4 linked regions of the Homo sapiens genome follow. The protein of the gene in region 4 purifies or fractionates together with the protein of the main gene of each other region. This does not show direct contact. Each region holds a gene or a part of one and is shown on either strand. Other genes may lie near its edges.

Region 1 (4,290 bases), on a different chromosome or scaffold from region 4:
GACTCAGGGCAATTTTCTGCACAACCAGCATTTTTTTTTTTTTTTGGATTGTTGAATTAATGTTTGGCACGCATTACTGTGAAGTGCATGATTATACCTACATAATATATCACTACAAACTAGGTTTATGAGTTCTCAAATAAATTCTGGGCCGCATTAACAACTAAGTGACTTGTTAAGAGTAATTCAGGATAATTTTCTTAAATTTGTAAGATATTTGTTGAATGACTGTTTGAAAAGGGCTTATTTTCTCACTGACCACTGGAGATCTTTAAACTTTCAGGTAACACGTTTAAGTCTTAAAAGCATTACTGCTGAAGTTAGGGGATTTAAGCCAAGTCACAAATGTCTGGAAAGTAGAGTTAGAACTTTACAAATTCACACTGAGTTCTCAGTTACATTCGTTTTACCATTTACTATTAGGAATAAAATCAAAGGGCTGTGCTTAACTTCAGTCAGACCTTTGACCTTAAGGGCAGAAGGAAGCAGAGAATTATAGTTCACACATAATAAACACATCTCCAAATTATTAAAAAGGCATTTTATTATAAATACATTTTAGTTGTAGCAGTAAAATACATTTTGTTACCATGAATCTTTGAAAACAAAAGAACTTCACTGAGACAATGAGCACACTGTAGGAACTGTAGACCCCAAGTTGAAAACTTGTTCTATGGAACCAAAGTAGCTAACGTAATTCCAAAACTAAGTTAGAAAAGATAAAGACAAAGAAAGAAGAAAATAAAAACCCTAGAGAGTGGCTTTGGGGTTATTTTATGGTACAAAGTCACTTTTACTTTTAAGGATAAACTCTTTAGGTATTAGAGCCTCTTAGATGAGGTATCATTTACTGCAAAGAAAAAAAATTGTTATAATTTTGCCATAAGTTATGCCTATTTAGATGGCTGTATAACTGGTACTTTGAAGAGATGAACCTGACCACCTCAGTTTTGTACAGCTTCCCTCAGGAAGACTTCCCAAAATAAGACTCAGTATGAATTTGCTAAGTAACTGATCTATGAAGTTAGCTGAACAAGTTTAGATAAGAACTATATGTATGAAGCATTAAAAAAAAATCCTGTGTCACTAATAACAGGACCCTTTAATAAAATGCAAAACTCATTATCTTTATAATTTAGAAGAGAAGTATTTTAATCACCATATTTACCTAGGATACAACTACTACATATAGCCAGTACCTTTATGGGGTTTAAAGAATCAGGTCAGATGACTGGCACAGAAATCAGATACAGTACAATGTCATATACATGGATTTATAGGAAGCAGGCATGGTCTGGATTTATGAAAATCCAGGACCCTTCCTCTGTAAAGGGGGAGGCTGAGAAACATTCTCAGCTGCACTGACACTTTGGGACTTCAACCAGGACAAAGAGCCCTCTGACCTACTGAAAGATATAAAGAGGTCTTCGCATACAAGTTATCGTGCAAAGCAAAGTGTAAATAAACCGAAGCTCCCCTCTAAGTTGGGACTGCATAAAGGAACCCAGGCTGAAAATATAAACAATCCTCTCCAAAGGTGAGCAAGCCTTTTCAGTAGGAAGGACTGTGTCTTAAGAAAACTCCAAAGCTGTATATTCTACGATGGTCTTCACGTGTACTTTTACACCTAAGTCATTCTGTATTCTATTACCATAAAAATAGCTTTTTTTTGTCTTTCTAGTAGCTCAGTAAATTCAAAGGCAAACTAAAAACCAGAAGCAGAGCCCAGTACCCCCCAAGATGCAGTCCAGATAAAACAGCAACAACACACAAATTAAACAATACCCAAAGACCTGACAGGTTTATTATATTATAGGCAGTTTCTTTCTCAAAAATAACTTGCTCATACATGTGCACCTATGACTTATGAATAATTCATGCTGTGTAGGTGGTAGATCCCCCTAGGCTGTTTTGCAAACACATATAGATTTTTTTAAAGGTAGCAAAGTAATCAGAGACATTTATTTTCTGCCATATGTAACACTTCAGGCTCTCTCTAACACCTGCTGGCATGGCAGAGAATCTAAAATAACTTTGTTAACCTGAGAAACACATAATTTGAAAAACAAATCCTTTGCCCTCACCACCCTCCCCCACAAAAAAAAAAAATAATAATAACCATAAAAACTAAAACATTTGCCAGGCGCAGTGGCTCATGCCTGTAATCCCAACACTTTGGGAGCCCGAGGCGGGCAGATCATGAGGTCAAGAGATGGAGACCATCCTGGCCAACACGGTGAAACCCCGTCTCTACTAAAAAATACAAAAATTAGCTGGGCGTGGTGGCGCATGCCTGTAGTCCCAACTACTTGGGAGGCTGAGGCAGGAGAATCACTTGAAGCCGGGAGGCGGAGGTTGCAGTGAGCCGAGATCATGCCACTGTACTCCAGCCAGGGCAACAGAGCGAGACTCTGCCCCGAAGAAAAAAAAACAAAACTATTATTTTATTATTTAAGGATTATCTGTGGTTTTCGATGCTCCATGTCACTGCCATCTTAGGACAGGGACTCCTGCACTTAGTGCCTCGATACATGCTAGGTGCACTCTCATGGCATTCTGATGGCTTCTTTCCAGGATTCTCACTTCCATGCATGTGGATCAAGATTGACCCTAAGCACACCAAACAAATGCACAGCTTCCAGACTGATGTCCAGGCAGCAGCGTACACAAAAGCAAACTCACCCTAAAACCAAAGAGCTCCTTCACCCTACTGCGGAAGAGCAGTGCAGACCCCAGCAGGGGTGAGAGTGAGGAGGGGTGGTGGCCAATCCAAAGGGCCTGTCGCTCCATGGAGACCTTTCTCCACAAATGTTCCAGTCATGGCACCAGATTTATAAAAATGTCTCCAGAGATCAGTTTTTTACACTGAGTAAATAAATACATGGTTGAAAAGACGTTCAGACTCTGAAGGTCTCTGAGACTTTCAAACTGCGAGAATCAGACCCAGTGATTTTCAAAGTGTGGTTCCTGGACTGGCAGCATCAGCATCGCCTGGAAACTTGTTGGAAATGCAAATCATCAGGCTCCAGACCAAAATCAGAAATGCTGGGGGTGGGTCCAGCTATCTGAATTTTAACAAGACCTCGAGGCAATTCTGATACTGGCTGAAGTTTGAGAACCATTGCTCCATCCTGTTCACAATTCTCAAATCTTAAAACAGGACAGATCTGTAAATAGTACTATGTGACTTCTACTCTGTGTTGCAACCTATGTAATTTGCCACCCTTTCCCCTTTACTTCTCAAACATTAAAAAAGTATTAATGAAAACACTTCATAAAATCAAAAATTTCTTAAAAGGTAATATCGATTTCCCCTCCTCTACATAGTTCTAAGGCAGGCAATCACATGCTAGTATGCAAAGTAAAATACAGAAGAGACCTCATATATGAGGTAGAAACAGTTAAAAAGACTCCCCACGAACATAATGAAAATTTCATAATATTGTTTAATGAACTCATAGAATTATATAAAACTTACTATGCTTTATGCTTAATATCTGTATCAAAATAAAATCTCTCTGTTGAACAAATTGCAAATAAAGTCTGGTCTAATACTCTGATAACTGAAACTATATGAATGTCTCTGGGTTTTCTTAACACTCCAGTTTTAGACGCTTTAGACGACCACTGCGGAACTGGGTTTGGTATTTAACCACAGTTCACATTTCTAAGTCTAGATTCTTCTATTAGGTACCTCCCTCCAAAAAATTTTTAGAAACTCTGGTGACTGTTTCCTTAAACTTCACTCCAAAGTAGACATTCTCAATTGGTTCAAAAATTTTAAACGTTACATTAAAATTGTTTTTAAATCTCTTGAATCTCATATTCTAGTTTAAAGTAATAACAGGATGTGTTTAGTAAGATTCACTCCTTGCAACAATGGTCTTGACATTACTGATTAAAAAGGTATGAAAGTAGAAAGTGTGAATTTAGCAGCTTTAAAGTCTCAGCTAATAAATGTCCATCCTCAAGCAGATGGGAAATGTGAGGAGCATATCATAATGAGCATTTTCAAGACTAACATGCCAGTTACTCTTTCAAGATGGAGATGGTGTCTTTGTAAGTGATTGGCACCACTACGTGATATTTTGAACAAGAAATCGTAGATAGAACATTACCTATTCTTTCTAATTTCTAGGCGGTTTGAATGTGGATCAGATGGCAAAGAGTGGAGACAAATCAGATCCATTAAGACATTTATACCTTGAGATTCAGGAAGACATATAGCGCGGCAGTAGAAATTAAGGATTTTCATATGTTAAGGGGATGGTGAGCAAGAAATAATGTACG
Region 2 (7,037 bases), on a different chromosome or scaffold from region 4:
CGGAGTCTCGCTCTGTTGCCCAGGCTGGAGTGCAGTGGCACTATCTCGGCTCACTGCAAGCTCCACCTCCCGGGTTCACGCCATTCTCCTGCCTCAGCCTCCTGAGTAGCCGGGACTACAGGCGTCTACCACCGCACCCGGCTAATTTTTTTTATATTTTTTAGTAGAGACAGGGTTTCACCGTGTTAGCCAGGATGGTCTCAATCTCCTGACCTCATGATCCGCCCGCCTCCCAAAGTGCTGGGATTACAGGCGTGAGCCACCGCGCCCAGCCAAAAAGCTCACATCTTAAGAAAATTCAATCTTCCTGTTCAAGCACAGGAACCATCTTCCCATTTCAGTTTCCTTCTAAGGTTCCTCAGTAAAGAACATATTTACATACTGTACATTGATATAAAATCCATACTGGATTTTATTTGAAGAATATTTAGCCCTGAAGTTGATGTGTTATGGGGCTTCGTTCTTAGTTCTCAATATACACTTTTCTATAATGTATAGAACATTGTTTTAAAATCTGTAGATTAAAAATAATCTGCTGCATTGACTTAATTAATTTTGCAAGTTAAATCACTTTAAAACAGTCTATTAGTGTTCTATGAGGGAAATTATGATTGGAAATCAGCTAAAGTTTTGTTTTTGTGTTGCTGTTCATAAAGGGCCCTGTACCCTGACCTCTCTGAGGTTTCCACATCCAGGGTGGTGTGAGGCCTGCGGAGGCGAGAAAGCCAGGTCCCCCTCCTCCCCCGCCAGGAGGGTATGTCCCCATCATCCCCCCACGTCCCACCTCCTCCCAGCCCAGGCCTGGTTACCTCTTTTGCTTGTCCTGCTTGTTCACGTCAGTGTCCCTGAGCATGACGATGAGATCCTTTCTGGGGACTTTACCCCACCAGGCAGCTCTGTGGAGCTTGTCCAGATCTTCTCCACGGACGTGGTACCTGGGCTCCATGAAGGCACTGTCATCGTAGTCTCCCCAAGCGCCCACCTTGCTCTTGCTGCTCCCCCTGCAGCAGGGGAAGCAGTGGCAGCACCACTTGCCCATCTTGTTCCTGAGTGTCTTCATAGCAGAGTCGTCGTGGTCTCCAGAAGCGCCCACGTTGCTCTTGCCACTCCCCCTGCAGCAGGGGAAGCAGTGGCGGCACCACTTGCCCATCTTGCTCCTGAGTGTCTTCATAGCAGAGTCGTCGTGGTCTCCAGAAGTGCCCACGTTGCTCTTGCCGCTCTCCCTGCAGCAGGGGAAGCAACGGCAGCACCACTTGCCCATCTTGCTCCTGAGACCAAATGGCTTCTTCACAGAAGAGGCAGCCGGCATGGAATCAACCTCAACCACCATCTGCTTTTAACAGCCAGGAGAAGCCAGTAGTAGCCAACAGATCGCGTCTACCAACCAGTTTCACCAACTAGCAGGTAACTCCGGGTTTCCAATCTGTTTGAAGAGAAAAGTCAATCCCAGCCAAAACCTGCCAACCCCAGCAGGGGATTCCAGCCCAGCCCACCCCACCCAGGGAAAACCCACACCCACCCGAGGAAAGCCCACGCCCCCCCTGGGCGACCCCACGCCCACCCCAGAAAGGGCCAACCCCCGCCCCCAAGAAAACACCCAGCCCACCCAAGGGAATGCCAAACCCAGCAGAGAAAAGGTCAAGCCCAGCAAAGGAACACGAGAGAGAAAACGTCAATCCAAGCAGGAAACGTCAATCCAAGCTACCAACGCCAAGCCAAGCCAAGAACGCAAAGCCAAGCCAAGCCGCTACAGGCCAGCCAAGCCGTTAAAGCGCGTGCAGCATGCGCGTGCAAGCCATTACAGGCCAGCCAAGCCGTTACGCGCGTGCGGCGTGCGCGTGCAAGCCGTTACAGGCCGGCCAAACCGTTATGCGCGTGCGGCGTGCGCGTGCAAGCCGTTACAAGCCAGCCAAGCTGCTGCCGGGCGTGTGCGCGCGGCGTGCGCGTGCGCGTGCGGCGTGCTTATCTCAGGTGGCGTCAGGGCACGTGGCACAGACACTGGCCGATGCATGCAACGCGCCTGCTTAAGTCTTGGCGCCACGAATGTCACTGACAGCCTTGAGTTCCGGCAAACTTCGTGGGAGTCAGCTGAGCTTTCAAGCCACTGAGAAGCCTCTGGTGAAAAAAAAAAAGCCTCTTAAAGGAGGACTGGGGCTAAGCGTCTGGAACTTGAGGATGCTGACAGCCTCCTTTGAAAAAAGCCCCCAGGACACTCCTGGCGGTGCTGTTGTGCATGGCAGCAGCTGCAGCTGGGAGCTCGGGCTGACGGAGCTGGCTGCAAATGGCCTCAAAATCGCGGAGCACAAGACGCCCACCGAGCCCAGGGCCTGCCTGAGGTGCCTTCAACACCTGCTCCTCTTTGCTCCGCACCCAGAACACGAGGCCATCAGCAAGGGGGCATTTGGGGCCACAGGATTGCAGCCAGCTCCTGCCCCGGTGCAGTGTATACAGTGTATACTGCACAGGTGTTGGGTGCACCAAAATCTCCTGAATCACCTCTAAAGAACTTACTCATATAATCAAACACCACCTTTTCCCCAAAACCCTAGGAAATAAAATGAAGAACTTTTTGTTTATGCATACCACATATTTTTTAACTTTTTTCACAGGTTCATTGAGATACAATTTATATATTATTTAATTCACTCATTTAAAGTATAAAATTCAGTTTTTTAAGTGTATTAACTAGTTAAACAATCACCATGATTTTAGAACATTTTTATGCTCCTTAAAAGAAACTTTGCACCCATTAGCAATCTTTCCCTATTTTCCCCATTCTTCCTTTAAACCTCTCCCAGCCCTAGGCAATCATCCATCTATTACCTAAGAATTTGCCTATTCTGGAAGGATTTGCCTATTCTGGACATTTCATGTAAGTGGAATCATAATAATATAGTTACGTGTGACTTACTACTTTCATTTATCATGTTTTCAATGTTCATCCTTTTTGGAGCATGTATTAATATGTTTTTCTTTTTCATTGCCAAGTAATATTTTATTTTATGGACAGACCACATTTTATTAATCCACTCCAAAATTCATGGACATTTCTGTTGTTTCCTACTTTTTGTTGCTATAAATACTTTTATGTGTAAGGCATTTGTTTTAATTTATTTTTGGTGTATACATAGGAGTGAATTTACTGAGTCATGTGGTAATTCTGTATTTAACCTTTGAAGAACGGCTTCATTTTTCTGCATGTGGCTTGCCAATTATACCAGCAGCATATGTTGAATAGGGTGTCCTTTCCCATTTTCTTGTTTGCTTTGTCAAAGATTAGGTAGTCTGATGCCTCCAGGTTTGTTCTTTTTGCTAAAGATTGCTTTCGTTTTTCAGCATCTTTTGTGGTTCCATTCAGATTTTAGGACTAATTTTTCTATTTCTGTGAAGAATGACATTGGAATTTGACAGCGGTTGCATTTAATCTGTAGAATGCTTTGAGTAGCATTGAAATTTTGACAATATTAATTTTTTCAATTGATATAGGACTTTTTCTATTTGTCACTTTCAATTTCTTTCATCAATGTGCTATAATTTTCAGTATACAAATCGTTCACATCCTTCATTAAAATTACTCCTTGCTCTTTGATTTACTTATATATTTGTTTTGTTGCTATTATAAATGGAATTACCTTATTTTTCAGATAACAGTTTGTCATTGGTGTATAGAAGCCAATGTTAATTTTGTAACTCTCAACTTTATTGAATATAGTGTTTATCAGCTGTAATGGGTTTTTTGTGGAGTCTAAAACACAGACAATCTCACCCCTTCCCTTCCTATTTAGATGCCTTTCCTTTCTTTGCCTTGTATAATTACTCTGGCAAGTCAGTTACATATAACGTTCTCAGCATTTGTAATTTGACATCAAATCCATCTGTTGTAATACACTGATTGTTACTTTTCAACTCGAAAACATGGACATTTATCACTACTCTCCCTTTCTCTTGGTCTAGTTGTTATTTAAAAAAAAACCTATCAATGCAAACCAGGATATTTTTCTACAAAACAATTTCAAACACACTAAAAGGTTTTAATCTAACAATTTTTAAACTTTCTTTGTCAATGACTTTGAACTGTGGTCTCTCGGAACAAATCCAACACCTTTAGTAGAAAAATTATGTTAATTCCTACATTATCATTGGGTCTAGCCAAGAGTTGACCAAAGGTGATATTAACAGATATGCTTATTTATTACCTTGTTCTCAAAGTTCTAGCATAAGTCTTGAAAAATCTAGTAAAAATTTGTAAAGACTATAATTGCACAAACTCCCTCTCTCATGAGTCACACAGTTAATCCAGAATACTATTTCTAAGTTATTGGAAAGCCAACAAGTAAATATGATGTAGTGTATAAAAATAATCCTAATTTCATTGTATATTCTGTAAGTGACATATGCAATTGATACTATTTACTAAATATCTCATAATTATATTTATTTACATAGAAAAAAGGAATAAAAAACATATCTATTATCTAACATTTAAATGATTAAAAATACTTGAGATAGCATTGCTACATAAATGCTATGTAAATGCTGAAGAAAGTAAAAATGTCATTCCCTACATTTGCTAAATATATTGTGACACATTATAAGCATTTTTAAAATATATCACTAATGGTTGGGTCAAGTCAGCAAAAATGATTCTAAGTATTTAATTGTGGAAAAATTTAGTACAGGGGATAGTATTCATGTGATGGAAGGATTTTAAATGGAACCCAGAGATTAGCAGCAGCAGTAAGTTTTAATTGCATACCAGGTGCAGAGTCTAGGATACAAGACAGAACTGCAGATAAAATCTGACTCCTTCCAGCATAGCTAGGAGACATGGCTAACTCCACCTGTCCGGAGACCTTACCTAGAAATCTAACGGCTCCAAACCAGGTAAACAAAACTATTTTCCAAAGTCAAAGCATCAATTTATGACATTAAAGCACTTCTAAAACTTAACCTCTGACTTAAGTTAGACCAAATGGATAAATTTTGAAGATATTTTTATTTTACCACTGACTTTAACACCATCTTTATTTCCCAAAGATTACTGAAGTCACATGAAATAAAAGGCATTAGAGCTTCTATTTTTCTTACAAAATATTTAAGAGCTTTCATTTTCTTTTAAGCCGAGCCATTATATATACATCACATACACAACACTTCTAGACAAGAAAAGATCTAGCAGTTGTTCAGTTTTTCTTTCCCACTTTATGAATCATAACACAACTTCCACAGACTATCTACAACATGATTAAATTTATCTGACCTGTCCTGTATTTCCCTCTTTTGTAATTAGTCATTCTACTTTAGGACAACAATTTGCCATATAAGATCCTCTCTCATATAACATTTCTTTCCTTCATAACATTTCTTACAATAAATACATCTTCATATCCACAATTTTCTTTAGATCTCTCTCCCCTACTAATTTCTGATGCCCATCCAAACCAAAAAGGTCAGACAACGCAAGGCAAAACAGAGCAGAGCCTTAGATTTTTGAGAGGGACCTGTCTGCTTAAAGTTCTTGGGGTTCCATGAGGAAAACAGAGGTTTCTCCTAAAATGGGGTTTGTGGAACCTTCTGTTTTTCCTTAAGGAGTCCCAGGTTGTCAGAAATTACCTTAGATCCTCTCATGTGGGCATCAAGAGTGGCAACAAGAGAGACTGGGGTAATAATTCAGACAACTGAGCAGAAAAAGAAAAACTTACTACTGTCCCCACTGTAATGATGGATAAACTGAGGCACCATGCAGTTCAAAAATTCATGTTCACATAATTAGGATCCACAGCTCACTCTCTTAAATAATTTTGCCACCTCTATGCCCAGTCACTGATGCACCTGTATGGTAGCTCATGGCCCCCTTGGAACTTAGAACCTGGGTTTCATTCCTGCTCTACGGCTATATAATTCAACAATTTTCCTTTGAATTTGTTGGACTCTAACCCTGTATATCTCAAATTTTATTAGTATTACTGAATCTTAAAGGGAGCTGTGACGTCTTTAGTCTTTAGAAATATTAAACCTATAAACAAGGACTATATGAGGTTAAACAGTATTCAAATTTCTATATGCTTTAAAACATGGACACAATGTATTGAGAAACACACCTACAAAACTGCACCCCATCAACTCTGGACAAAAATTTAGATATTATCTCTTCAATATAACCTATCTAGTGGTATTTATACATATTCTTCCATGTATCAACGGTATATTACATGCTCATAACCTTAAAAATAACAAGTGTTCAAATTATAGGCCTTACACATTTCTACGGGCTTGAAAAATGATACAATATAGATTGTCTTTAAAGCAGTCAAGAAAATGCATAAACTTCTAGAGGAATCAGTAAAATAAAGATAAAAAGTTCACACCTAAAGTAGTAATACTAGGAATAAAAGAGGGCTCGACACTGCAGGTTCTTAGATACAAAAGTTAATAAAGCCTTGTTTTTGGTTGTGAATCTTTGCCTTAAAATACACACAGCTGACCGAGGTGGGTGGATCACCTGAGGTCAGGTGTTCTAGGCCAGCCTGGCCAACAGGGTGAAACCCCATCTCTACTAAAAATACAAAAAGTAGCCGGGCGTGGTGGCAGGCACCTATAATCCCAGCTACTCAGGGGGCCAAGGCAGGAGAACTGCTTTCACCCAGGAGGCAGGGGTTGCAGTGAGCCAAGATCGGGCCATCGTACTACAGCCTGGGGGACAAGAGCGAGACTTCATCTCAAAAAAAAAAAAAATTACACACAATTCTCCCGACTTCCTTTTTCTCTTGCAAAGAGGTGGTGATGAACCAGGTTTGCTCAGGCAGATGACAATACTCTTGAAAATGGTGGCAGAGAGCCAGGCGTGGTGGCTCACACCTCCAATCCCAGCACTTTGGGAAGCTGAGACAGGTGGATCACTTGAAGTCGGGAGTTCAAGACCAGCCTGACCAACATAGAGAAAACCCATCTCTATTAAAAACACAAAGTTAGCTGGGCATGGTGGCACATGCCTGCAATCCCAGTTACTCAGGAGGCTGAGGCAGGAGACTTGCTTG
Region 3 (6,036 bases), on a different chromosome or scaffold from region 4:
TGGGTATAGGTAAAGGGAAAAAAAGAGGCAAGGAACCAAAGCACTTTGACATACTTTGGTATGTCACTTAATTCTCAAGCTTCCCATTGTTAGAAGATAAACAAGTCTTTCCCACTAAGGAATAAATTATGTTACCCACCACCACCACCACCAAAATTTTGAAGATGCCATTTCACATCATTATAGCGGCCACTTTTTCAGCTCAAAGTTTCTTTCCCTTTTTTTTTTAACTTTTATTTTAGTTTCAGGGGTACAAATGCAAGTTTGTTATATAGGTGAATTACATTTGACCTTCTAGATTATATGTATGTATTACTCTAATAAAAATTTTAAAATTTTTAGAAAAATGCCAAAATTTTAAAGTGATATTTATGAACTTTATAAATATTTTGTAACATAGGAAATATTGTCCAATATAAAGAATTTAGGAAAGACAAATTTTTTCACAATACAATGATTGCAACTACATTAACATGCCTAAGGGTAATGGAAATAAACAACTAAAAGGGATAATGGAAAAATGAAAACAGTTTTACTTGGGTAATGAGATTACAGATGACTGAAAAAATTTTTAACTTTACAATAGTAGCTTAACATCACTTTATTTTACAAAGCTTTTATAACATACACAATAACATTTTAGAATACACACTTCCTTTGGGATTCTATTAGCATTTTATGAAAAATCTAAGAGAGTCTATTAAATAGCATCCTTATTTCCAGCAGTTTATACTCCAATATTATGAAATTCTTTAAGTTCCCTAAATTAAAGCCTTCCATTAAAGGCCAGCCCAGGCACATTTATGAAGTCATCATTGAATGCCTAACTTTGCTTTTAAAAACCTCTTCCTACCCTCATGTCTTATTCTGTTCCCTATATGCCAGAATAACATACCACCATCTAGTTCCTCAGGCAACAACTCTCCTGGGATGCCAACTGTTTCCTGTAGTTTACAACTTGTTTTAAATTGTGAGAATGTCTTCAGTGTGGTTTCCTATTGCGGGAGTCATGTGTGTGCCCTGGATTGTGAAAGTGTCCTCATGGTATGTTTTGGCATTTTATTTCTTTTATGGACCTATAGGGCTTATCAAGATAATGAGAGGGCATGAGATTTTATATTTGTGGTCCAGTCAAGAGAAACCCTTTCCTGCTCCCTCCTTTGTGAATGGAGCCCAATTCCAGCAATCTGTCATGCATATAATCTACAACCTAACCCCCTGTTTATCTCTTCCCCTAGCTATAATTCATGTTGACCAAAAAAACAAAACCAAAACCAAAACCAAAACCAAAGGTTGAGGTACCTTTCATATCCCTTGGACAGGAAGACTTTAAGCTTGATTTAGCCGTTGATTCCTTTTACATTCAGATAACTAGTTTTAATTCTTGCTTTTCACCTGTAACATATATTTCCAAAATAAATATTTTATCTATATTTCCAAGTTTTTGTAACAAAGCAGTTAATTATGTGGGTTATTTTGCCATGAACTTTATGACTGCTTTTGAGCACTTGGTTCCTCATTAGAAAGTAAATTCCCTGGAAACAGGACTTTTCATATTTGTATCATCAGGGCTTAGTGTAGTAACTGGTTTATAACCAGCATTCAGCACACATTTAGAGAAGGAATGCCTGTTTTCAGGTCACTGTGAGAAATGCATATGATTAACTATGGGGTTAATGGCAAGATTAATAAAGCTGGCCTTCAAAGGGCATTTGCATTTTAGAAGGGGCTACCTGTGTGTTTACCTGGGAGTTCTCTGAGCTTTCTCAATGATATTTTTAAGGTAGAATCTCCAAGGCTAACATTACAAACACTATATCTAGTAAGTAGGTGAGAGTTTTTGAGCAGATAAATTCCTCCCAAATTCCCACACCATATTTGGCAACTAACTTTTCTATGTATATGGTAGCTTCCTGGCTTCACCCAGTAACATGTCATCTGATCCCTATGATCACTCTAGTTTTCTAGGGACAATTTTTTTTGAGGGAGGAGTGGTCAAAATGAGTTATAATAAACTGTTAAGATAAAATGAGTATAAGGTCTAGTCTTTCTCATAGGGTAAGTAATGTTTTTATTTGTGGTTGCAGCATTGGTCAGAATGGAGGGCAGAAAGCAGTAAGGAATGAAATATTCTTAGAATCACAACATTATGGACTGTAAGAGATAGGTCAGAACCCAGATCTCACTTTACAGATTAGTTTTACAGATGTCAGTTTAAACAACCACTCAGACAAGGGTAATAATGCATATGCAGTGGGAACACGAAACACATCCTATACACTCAGATTTCCACTCACGGCCATCTGCCTTTACAGTCTAGAAGACTACAGCACCTCTAAATATGTATACTAGTTGTATGTAATTCTTTTCTTGCAGCAGAAATATTTCCATAACTGTATTTCATTTTATTTAGGCTAACACAAAAAAATAGTTTGCATTCACAATATCAAACAAAATCCAGAACTAAATGTATTCTGGATAATAACAAAAAGCTATTATGCAAATAAATTGTCTCATGCTGATAATTCTCAAAATTGTTATTATAAGTATTATACTATTAACTGTATTAACCAAGTAAATTCCTCAAAAGAGCATCCAGGGAACAACAGAGCATGATAATGGGAATCAGTACTAACTTTTAGGGTATGTTATTTACCTCAATAATTGTTCAAAAAGCACTTGTTGACTATGAAAGAAAAGGGAGCTAGGAATAGTAGAGGGAATGGTAAAGATTCTAGAGTCTCCCAGATAGTCTACCACTACATAGCTCTACCATGTAGTGGTAGAGCTGAGATTAATACCCAGGTCTCCTTTCTCCCAGCTCCTTATTCTATCCATTAGAGCAGACAACTTTGCTCTTTTCTGAAGAGGCTTCTCAAAAAGTGTAGAGAAAAAATCATCATAACCTCATGGTTAAATATAAATATTTTCAGAAGCACAAGGTTCATTGTCAAAAATGGAATTAAAGCATCTATTCAATGATCTATCCTCTTGCTCAGCCTGTGGAAAGCATATGGTAAGATTTTCAGCCACATGATTCCAAACTAGACATTTATCACTTCTTACTGGAGTTCTGAAATTACTCCATGCTTTCCTTGAGTTGTGAATTGATCAGTTTTCACTTTGAAAAGTAATTGCTTTTCCCACTGGTGAAGTCAACTCCATTCGCTTCCAATATGAGTGTGGCTCATTGATTCTCTCTTTGTGGCTTTTACATCTATTTCACCGAGGAGGCAGGTATGGCAGTGGGACTTTCAAAAAGGCTTCTGGATGACCAGTGAAGAATCAGTTATATAAAATTGTGGTAGTTAATAACATTTGGGACTCCCAGGTCTCATTTTATTGTCATGACTTTTGAGTACAGGCATTGTTGGACAAATCAGCATATCTATGTGGCATGAAAAAAAAGTCGTAATGATATGACTTCCAATTTATTCCCCACACATCAGCGATGCTGCTTTTTGTTAACAGTAGAGCCTGTGTTCTTTTGTTCTCTGTCTCACCCCTCCTCTGCTTTCTCTTTTCTCCTAATTTTTCCTTCATTCATCCATCCATCCATCCACCCACCCACCTTTATCATCAAGCTTTCTATTCAGCATTGACTAACTTAAGACAAATCTATGGCTTTTAAAAGCAGCAAAAAACTTTCTGAAGGCATATTCATTTTTCCTTTTTTTTAAAAAAATCCTTCCATATATCAAGTACTCCTGAAGCACTAAATGTAGAATGACAAAAGAGACTGCTTTCCTTGTCAAGTTACATCTTTCTAACTGCTTTAAAATGGGTATCTAAACTGTACATCCACTATCCTACCTGGGTCACACAATGGTGCCACTCATACCACACAAAATGTAAGATAGGTGGGTGGGATGGTATCCTTGATTTTATTTAAATACTTTTTTTTTTTAAACACTGCTTTGGGAAGAACTGAATTCTCTTATTTTAAAGATTTTTAAAAGGAGAAGATGCTAGAATAACCTTTATTTTTTGGTTTTTGGGGGGTGTCTGTTAGATTGTTACTAGGCAGGCTGTTGCCCTGGCAACAGGAGCAGCCATAAAAGAGCATTAGGAGCTATCTTGTACATCTTTGACTATAAAAATGCTGAAGAGGCCTGGTTGACATCTGGACTATATACAACTCTATTACAACAAAAACAAATAGTCCTTCAAATTTGGTCTTCACTTTATAGTTTACCAAATATTATTTCATTTGATTCTGACAACACTACTGTTAGCAGGACAGATATTAACTTCATTTTTAAAATATAATTGAGATGGGCAGTCTAAAGAGAGGCAGGCTTCTTTTGTTCTTCTTCCTCCTCCTCTTCCTTCTTGTCAAAGAATATTAACCACAAAAGAAATGATATCCAGTTTGAAAATGAAGGAGAAATTAGGTCTTAATTTAAAAAATTATCATCAAATATGAAGAGAAACATAAACTATCTTCAACAAAACTAGAAGACACTTTAACCTCAACCCCAAAATAGGAGATAGAGCTGCCAGGTGCAGTAAAGGTCAGATAGCTCCATATCGCAGCCAAAGTCATTAGACCAAAATACTCCAAAATAGATGACATAATCTGAGACAGGGAAAAAAAAACAACAACAACTAGTTCCTTCTCTAAAACAATGGAAATGGGATGAGTGTCAGTAGTAGGGGATTTCCTGGATATTGTCTGGTACAGTGGCAGGAGGGGCAAAGCTGAAGAAGAAAATACATGCATATCACATTGACAAGCAGTAGTCTGTAGACGTGGCAGACAGGAGGAAAGAGACTCCAAAGGTGGTAACCCTGTAGTTGCCAATCTTTGTTGACTGGAGAGAGTAAAAGGCTACAACAGCTCTCTCAGACCCACAATCCTGTCATAAGGAGATTCACTGTCACCTTGGTAGGATTGTGTGAGCTTAAAATGCCAACCTACGGCCGGGCATGATGGCTCATGCCTGTAATTCCAGCATTTTGGGAGGCTGAGGCAGGAAGATCATGAGGTCAGGAGTTCGAGACCAGCCTGGCCAACATGGTGAAACCCAGTCTCTACTAAAAATGCAAAAATTAGCCAGGCGTGGTGGCGGGCGCCTGTAATCCCAGCTACTCTGGAGGCTGAGGGAGGAGAATCATTTGAAACTGGAAGGTGGAGGTTGCAGTGAGCTGAGATCATGCCACTGCACTCCAGCCTAGGCAACAAGAGTAAAACTCCATCTCAAAAAAAAAAAGAAAAAGAAAAAGAAAAGCCAACCTACCTAACATATGAAATTGCATTTTAAAAAACAACAAAAACAAAACAAAAACAAACAAAAAAGAAATTGTATCAAATAGATGAGCCAGAAAGAAATTTATCTCATATAAAGGTAAGTAATACTTGAAAATAAACCTGCACAGTGTTCATGCACAAACACTTCAAGAAAAGGAGAAATGGAACAAGCAGAAACAATTAGCAGATAAAAACCACTCAACAGGAAAGAATGAATCAGCTGAGCACATGAAAAATGTGACCAAATATACTGTCATAACTCAAAGAACTTAAGGAAATAGAGTTCATAAAGAAATGTAGTTGATCAGAAACACCATAGCAAAACAACCAAAGGAAATGCAACATAAGCTAACAAAGTTCAGAAAAGAAATGAAAAGGAAAAAATAATCAACCAAAACTGTGCAGTAGAGGAAAAAATACACTAATTGGATATTGTTCACAGCAAGGAGTCAACAGATAGGATCTATATATATATATATATAGACTTTAAAATTAAATATAATTCAAAATCATAGTGAAGGAAAAAACCATTAGCACAACAAGTGAACTATAGCAAATGTGAATAACATAATGCAAGTGTAGTATACAGCATACATTGCTGATTATGTATCCATTATCCATGCCCTCACTATCCAAAATGATGATTTTGGTCATATATCCTTCTTTTCCACAGAATCATGTGCTTTAGGGCAGTGGTTCTTAACTAGGGTCAATTCTTCCCTCACAAAAGACATTTACTAATGTCTGGAGACATTTTTGACTGCCACAGTTTGGAGGCGATGCTG
Region 4 (7,514 bases):
CTAGACCAGGGTTAGCAAACTGTGGACAGTGGGGCACATCAGGCTTCTGGTCTGTTTTTGTAATAAAGATGTCCTGGAAATAGTCACATTCATTTCTGTATTGTTTGTGTCTGCTTTCATGCTACCATGGCACAGTCAAGTCATTACTATCCAAACCATCAAATAACCTAAAATATTCACTCTCTGGCCATTTACAGAATAAGCCTGCTGACCCTCTCCGATAAAACTTCCCATAATCATGGGAATGTTCTATATCTTTGCTGTCCAATATGGTAGCCACTAGCCACATGTGACTATTGAACATTTGAAATGTGGCAAGCAGGCCAAGCATGGTGGCTTACGCCTATAATCCCAGCACTGTGGGAGGTCAAGACAGGAGGATCACTGGAGCTCAGAAGTTCGAGGCAAGCCTGGGCAACATAGTGAGACCCCATCTCTACAACAATGTATAAAAATTAGCTGGGCATGGTGGCGCATGCCTGTAGTCCTAGCTACACAGGAGGCTGAGGTGGGATTATTGCTTGGACCTAGGAGGTCAAGGCTGCAGTAAGCTGAGATCACACCACTGCACTCCAGCCTGGGCAACACAGCAAGACCCTGTCTCAAAAAAAAAAAAAACAAAGAAAAGAAAAGAAAAGAAAAAAGCACTGAGGAAATGAATTGTTAACATTTTTAATGTAAGTAAATTTCAGCTGGGTGCAGTGACTCACACCTGTAATCCCAGCACTTTGAGAGGCCGAGGCAGGTGGATCACCTGAGGTCAGAAGCTCCAGACTGGCCTGGCCAACACAGTGAAACCCTGTCTCTACTAAAAATACAAAATTAGCCGGGCTTGGTGGCGCGTGCCTGTAATCCCAGCTACTTGGGAGGTGAGGTAGGAGAATTGCTTGAACCCGGGTGGCAGAGTTTGCAGTGAGCCAAGATTGTGCCATTGCACTTCAGCCTGGGCAACAAGAGTGAAACTCTGTCTCAATAATAATAGTAATAATAATTTAATTTAATTTTTTTTTTTGAGACAGAGTCTCACTCTGTTGCCCGGGGCTGGAGTGCAGTGGTGCAATCTTGTCTCACTGCAACCTCCAACTCCCAGGTTCAAGGGATTCTCCTGCCTCAGCCTCCTGAGTAGCTGGGATTACAGGCGTGAGCCACCGCACCTGGCCTAATTTAATTAAATTTAAATAGCCACAGCACATCAAGTCCAGCCTTCTGAGCTTCCCTCCACTGGCCTTACAAGATCCCTCACTCCCTTATTGCTTTCAGACCTCAAAGCCCTGTAGTATCATCCTAGGAATCTAGAAATGAGTCTCTCAAAATCTCACTTCGTCAACACAGTGCCTGAAATTCCACCATCAGTGTGCCAACTCCTTGAGTTTAGCATTTCCTTCACCCCCGATTCCAATTTTAAGTTGCAAATAGCCCAGTGAGGGTTACAGATGAAACGGGCAAAACCTCCCCGTGAAGTAGATGGTCCAAGGGCTGCCTGGTCTTTGGAAGCTGAAGTGGACATTGCAAAGGGAGCAATGGTGTCAAGGCTGGATGCCACGCCATTAGAGCTTAGGGTCCAGAGCCCACGGTGGGAATGAGGGCAGCTGCTATTGCTCTTACCTGCCAGGGCCAGCTGTAGGGGACCGCATCCTCACCATGGACAACGCGGCTGGAAGAGTGAGAGGAAGGTGGGCCATAGCCTGAGGCTAGAGGGGAGAGGAGAGCTGTCAATCAGCTGGAGGGTCCCCAAAAGCAAAGAGGAGGCCAGGGTCCCAGTCCAAGCCATGCCTTCAACTGGCTGTGTGACCCCATGCAAGCCCCTTTCGCCCTCTGGACCTCAGTAACCACATATGAACAGTGAACATTTAAACTAGAGCAGGGCTTTCCAGAATCCCAGGAGTCCAGGGATAGAGATTCAAATGTGGCCTCCTTCATTGGGAGGATTGAAGAGCTTGATACACTTAGAACAATGCCTGGCCCTCGATGAGCCCTCAAAAAGTGAGAGCTATTGTCATACAGAGTGGAGGCTTTAAAGAAGGACTTCCTGGGTTCAAAGTGCAGCTCTGGGCTGTGTGTGGTGGTTCACACCTGTAATCCTAGTGCTCTGAGAGGCCGAGGCGGGAGGATCGCTTGAGCCCGGGAGTTTGAGACCAGCCTGGGCAACATAGCAAGACCTCATCTCTAGAAAAATAAAGTACAATAAAATAAAGTAGCCAGGTATGGTGGCATGTGCCTATAATCTCAGCTACTCAGGAGGCTAAGGTGGTAGGATTGCTTGAGGCCAGGATTTTGAGACCAGTCTGGGCAACAAAGCAAGACCCCATCTCTACAAAAAAAAAGCAAAAAATAAAAACATTAAGTGCAGCTCTGCCTTTTGTTCTATGATAAGCTACTTTACTTCCTTGAGGGTCAGTAAAATGGGGGATAATGATAGTACTGATCTCCTGAGGCTGTTGTGAGAATTACATGAGAAAGTATAAGAAAATCCCTAAACATTCTGCCTGGCATAGTAAGCACTCAATCAATGTTATCTGTTACCATTATTGTCAGTCAAGGGAGGCTGTTTGGAAGAGGTGGCCCTGAGCTGGAATGTAATATGGCAGAGAGACCAGGAAAAGGCCAGAGCATAGAATATGGAGCCAGGTAGGGGGAGTGAGAGGAGAGTTGGAGTGGTAAGTAGAACTGTGGAAATTCCAACCCAAGAAGTCCAACCACACAGTCCAAACTCTTAACCGTTTGACTTTGTTTACTGCCCCCATCAAGGACTTCCACCACAGCCCTTTGGGGGTCTTTCACCATCCACAGCTTCCCCTCCACTCTCCTGCTCCATCATAAGCTGAAAGCCCCTACAGTCATGCCCCCGGGTACAAGCTGAGACCCCCTCCTGTGGAACCAGGCATAGCATGTCATGGGACTCAGAGCGAGTGGTAGATTTCAAGGATTCCTAGTCCAGGGCAGCCCAGGGAGCACACAGACAGGTTGGGGTCTTACCAACGGCCACAAGGAGGAGGGAACTGAGCAGCCGGAGCATCATGAGTTTTGTGATGATAGGAAAAGGGCACAGAGCCTGGGGCTCTAATATAGGGCAGAAGGTAAGCAGGGGGGCTGATTGGGCCCCACTCCCAGAACAGGTGGTGGAACTCCAGGTCTCCCATGGTCCAAGGCCACAGTCCTCGCCTGCTGCAGATGGACAAGTGACAGCCAAAGGGAGGACCTAGCGTTCCCTCCAACAGGTGGCTGGACAGGTGGTGTGGAGTGGCCAACTGATAACAAGAGTTCAGGAAGAAAAGCTCATGTCAGGACAAGACCTCCTCTTTCGGAAAGAACAGGGGCACTGGAACCGGGCAGACCACGGTTCAATCCTGGTTCTGCCACCTTCAAGCTCTGCGACTTTGGGCGCATGGCTTAACCTCTCTGAGTCTCAGTTTTCTGCTCTCTAACATGAGATTTATATTAGTACCCACCTCCACAAAAAAATTCTTGTTGAGCACTTTTTCTCTATGTATCAGGCACTGTTCTAGGGGATACAGCTGTGAAAAATGCATGGTCTCAGCCCTTCTAGAGTTTGAGTCTAGGCCAGGAGCGGTGGCTCACACCTGTGATCCCAGCGCTTTGGGAGGCCAAGGTGGGAGGATCACTTGAGGTCAGAAGTTCGAGACATGATGAAACCCTATCTCTACTAAAACTACAAAAATTAGCCAGGTGTGGTGGTGAGCACCTGTAATCCCAGCACCTGTAATCCTAGCTACTGGGAGGCTGAGGGAGGAGAATCACTTGAACCTGGGAGCGGAGAGGCAGAGGCTACAGAGAGCCGAGATCATGCCACTGCACTCCAGCCTGGGCCACAGAGCAACACTGTCTCAAAAAACAAAAACAAAACCAAAAAAAAAAACAGAGAAGAAAAGAAAATGAAACATAGGTGATTGGGGTAGGAATGGGAGTAAGTCATTTAGATGGGGGGGACAGAGAAAGTGACATTTGGGCTGAGGAGGTCATATCTGATGGAGTCCTGAGGATAAGTAAAAGCCAGCCACGGGAATCCCTGAAAGAAACGCGCTCTGAAGGGAGGCGACAGCAGGTGCGAAGTTCTGGAGGCTGCAATGGGCTTGACTTGTTCAAGGAAGGGGAGGCCAGTGTGACAGGAGCTTGGTAGTCAAAGTAGAGAGGGGTGGGAGATGAGGTCAAAGAGCAGGCGACCCCGAAAGTGGAATTCACAGGTGATCCAGCCGTTTCCCTCCTAGGTCTATACCGTGAGAAAACCTTAGGCATGTGCTCCAGGAGGTGTGGATGAGATTGTTTGCCGCAGCCCCTGTTCTCAAAACTCAACAGCAAAGACCTAGAAACAACTCCCACGTCCATCAAGGTTCATAGGTCAATATGTGTAGCATATTCACACAATAGATTTTTTTTTTTATAGTGGTGCGATCTTGGCTCACTGCAACCTCCACCTCACGGGTTCAAGCGATTCTCCTGCCTCAGCCTCCTGAGTAGCTGGGATTACAGGCGCGCACCACCACGCCCGGCTAATTTTTGTATTTTTAGTAGAGACGGGGTTTCACCATGTTGGCCAGGCTGGTCTCCAACTCCTGACCTCTGGTGATCCACCCACCTCGACCTCCCAAAGTACTGGGATTACAGGCATGAGCCACTGCATCCGGCCAGACGGGGCAATTTAAATAGATCCCTCCTGGGGGAAAGTCAGGCATCTTGCTGAGCAGGTTTTGTTTTAGGAGTGAACCCCCTCCAATCACAGCCTAGCCACTCTGATAGCCTGGGTTCGTGGAACGTGTGTGGACACAAGGGAAGCAGCTGTGAAAATCCTTTATACTGTGATAAAAATAGCCATGCCCTCCCCTACCCTCTGTTCCCTATGTGCCCGGACATGTTTGCTCAGCTTGAAAGCTCTGAGCCATTCCCCAGACCCTACGCCAGGGAAGAAGGAGGGAGGGGCCCAGGAGGTGGCTGGGGAGAGATAGGGTTAGGTCCGATAAGCCCAGATTCCACTGTAGAGTGTCTGAAACCCACAGGGCCTAAAACGCGATCTAATCCAACCACTTTTATTTGACAGAAGGGAAAATGATGGGCCAGGCACAGTGGCTCACGCCTGTAATCCCAACACTTTGGGAGGCCGAGGAGGGTGGACCACCTGAGGTCAGGAGTTCGAGACCAGCCTGACCAACATGGAGAAACCCCATCTCTACTAAAAACACAAAATTAGCCGGGTGTGGTGGCACATGCCTGTAATCCCAGCTACTAGGGAGGGTGAGGCAGGAAAATCGCTTGAACCTGGGAGGCGGAGTTTGCGGTGAGCCGAGATCGTGCCATTGCACTCCAGCCTGGGCAATAAGAGCAAAACTCTGTCACAAAAAAAAAAAAAAGAAGAAGAAAATGATGACCCAGAGAAAAGCCAGGACTTGGTCAAGTTTCCCTGGTTTGTTACTGCTTGGCCTGGTGAAGGGTAGCCCACGGACACGGGAGGGTCCACTCTCCCTCCCCCAACTTCAACCGAGAAGCCTTCCCGGCTTCTTACCCAGGTGACCTTGAGCAAGTCCCAGCCTCTCTGTCGGCTCTGCTGGGTCCCCAGGGAGAGGGGCTCCCTGACGCCAACTGTCCCACCACAACCCCTGCCTGATTGGTTACTTCAAGGCCTTATGGACTGACACTGGCAGTTGCACGGCTGATTAACTCTCCGAGGGTTTTCTGGCCTAGGAGTAGCTTGAGTGAAATCCCTGAAGATGAACCTCCTTCCAACACCTGCCCCGCAAGAGGGAAGATGGAGGGGTTAGATCTACTTTAGGCCTCAGCCTGAAGCAAAGCAAGCCATTTCCTGAATGGGAGGTGGAGGTTAGGTCGGAGAGTATGCAAAATTAGGAGGTCAGTCTGGGAAGGAGAGGGAGGGCGGGGAAGCTGGCGAGGGGACGGAGGGGAAGCTGGTGAGCCTTTTTCCCGGGACTGGGGGAGTTCCATTCTTTCCAGTTCCCACCCCACAGGAAGCTCTTTGAGGATCAAAACTTTATCTTATTCATCTTCCGATTCCCAGTACCTAGAAGGGAGCCTGGCACATGGTAGGTTTTCAACAGCATTTATTCAAGGAGACAACAAATGAATGAAGGAAGGGAAAGGACTCTTCAAATGCCCTCCGCTTCCTACCCTGAAAGCACGGTTGAGCCTGATATTCATGCAGGATGCACCTGGAGGGTGTCCCCTCTGTGTGGCCTGGAAAAGCGCAGCAGCATCTGGATGGTGTCCTGATGGGCACATTCTAGAGATATTAATAGATGTTTGATGATAAATGGACCCACTAGAACGGAGCCCCCATGGGGCGGGGGGTTTTGTGTGCTTTGTTCACTGCTGTGGCCTCGGCTCCCAGAATATAACCCAGTGGGCACTCAGTGAAGAACTAAAGGTCAGATGGGATTGGAAAATATGAGCTCAAACAAAGTTCAAATTGTCCTTTCCTACAGGACTTCTCAGAGCCTTTAATATGCCAGTGTTCACGGTGAATCACACACAGTGGTCCTAAGTCCGGGACTCTGGTGCCTTGTTGCCCTGTAGTTTCTGTGAAAATAAGATATTCAAAATCTAAGCTGTTGGAACTTTAAAATACCTTAGACTTAAGGGAATGAGATTATGGGACCTGAGTAATGTAAACAGGAAGGCATAACTTTTGTTTGTGTTATCGATTAGCTTTTCCTTAACTACATTGTTTTATAAAATGTTGTAAATGACTAAAGGGTGACAGGGCAGACTGTTTCCCTCTCAACAGTCAATCTTCATTATAGATTAACTTCCTTCTTTTCTCTCTCACACAAAGACTTCATGACTATCACATTATCTAAGATAGAATGTTAAATACACAAATTGGAAAGGAAAATAAAACAAAGTGTATGGAAAAGAAGACAAATTTTAACTAGCTATATTGTTGTAACTCATAAACCAGCCTGGTATAGAAATGTTATAGTCCTACTAAATTTGTTTCCTGCCTGTATGAGCAAGATCATAATTTTTTTTTTTTTTTGGAGACGAAGTCTCACTCTTGTCCCCCAGGCTGGAGTGCAATGGCTAGATCTCGGCTCACTGCCACCTTCGCCTCCCGGGTTCAAGTGATTCTTCTGCCCTCAGCCTCCCAGGTAGCTGGGATTACAGGCACCTGCCACCACACCAGGCTAATTTTTGGATTTTTAGTAGAGGCAGGGTTTCACCACATTGGCCAGGCTGTTCTCAAACTCCTAACCTCAGGTGATCCACCCACCTTGGCCTCCCAAAGTGTGGGATTACAGTCGTGAGCCACCACGCCCAGCATTTTTTTTTTTTTTTGAGACGAGTCTTGCTCTTGTCTTGCTCTTTTTTTTTTTTTTGAGATGAGTCGTGCCAGACTGGAGTGCAATGGCACGATCTCAGCTCACTGCAACCTCTGCCTCCCAGGTTAAAGCAATTCTCCTGCCTCAGCCTCCCAAGTAGCTGGGGTTACAGGCATGTACCACCACGCCCGGCTAATTTTTTGTATTTTTAGTAGAGATGGGGTCTCA

What was found.
Region 1: the proteins of CELA3A (region 4) and HELZ purify together in Homo sapiens (affinity purification with mass spectrometry; 2 studies listed by BioGRID and IntAct, with this or other methods). This does not show direct contact.
Region 2: the proteins of CELA3A (region 4) and POTEF purify together in Homo sapiens (affinity purification with mass spectrometry; 2 studies listed by BioGRID and IntAct, with this or other methods). This does not show direct contact.
Region 3: the proteins of CELA3A (region 4) and PPIP5K2 purify together in Homo sapiens (affinity purification with mass spectrometry; 2 studies listed by BioGRID and IntAct, with this or other methods). This does not show direct contact.

What each region holds. Positions count from the first base shown.
Region 1 is NC_000017.11:67,069,918-67,074,207, forward strand, and holds the end of HELZ (probable helicase with zinc finger domain), read right to left. Parts: 3' UTR 527-4,290; downstream 1-526. UniProt on the Homo sapiens protein: May act as a helicase that plays a role in RNA metabolism in multiple tissues and organs within the developing embryo.
Region 2 is NC_000002.12:130,119,186-130,126,222, forward strand, and holds part of POTEF (POTE ankyrin domain family member F), read right to left. Parts: intron 2,114-7,037; exon of another isoform or gene 1,424-2,113; 5' UTR 1,331-1,423; coding exon 810-1,330; intron 1-809.
Region 3 is NC_000005.10:103,207,274-103,213,309, reverse strand, and holds the end of PPIP5K2 (inositol hexakisphosphate and diphosphoinositol-pentakisphosphate kinase 2), read right to left. Parts: 3' UTR 511-6,036; downstream 1-510. UniProt on the Homo sapiens protein: Bifunctional inositol kinase that acts in concert with the IP6K kinases IP6K1, IP6K2 and IP6K3 to synthesize the diphosphate group-containing inositol pyrophosphates diphosphoinositol pentakisphosphate, PP-InsP5, and bis-diphosphoinositol tetrakisphosphate, (PP)2-InsP4.
Region 4 is NC_000001.11:21,997,180-22,004,693, reverse strand, and holds the start of CELA3A (chymotrypsin-like elastase family member 3A preproprotein), read right to left. Parts: upstream 3,038-7,514; 5' UTR 3,020-3,037; coding exon 2,977-3,019; intron 1,692-2,976; coding exon 1,606-1,691; intron 1-1,605. UniProt on the Homo sapiens protein: Efficient protease with alanine specificity but only little elastolytic activity.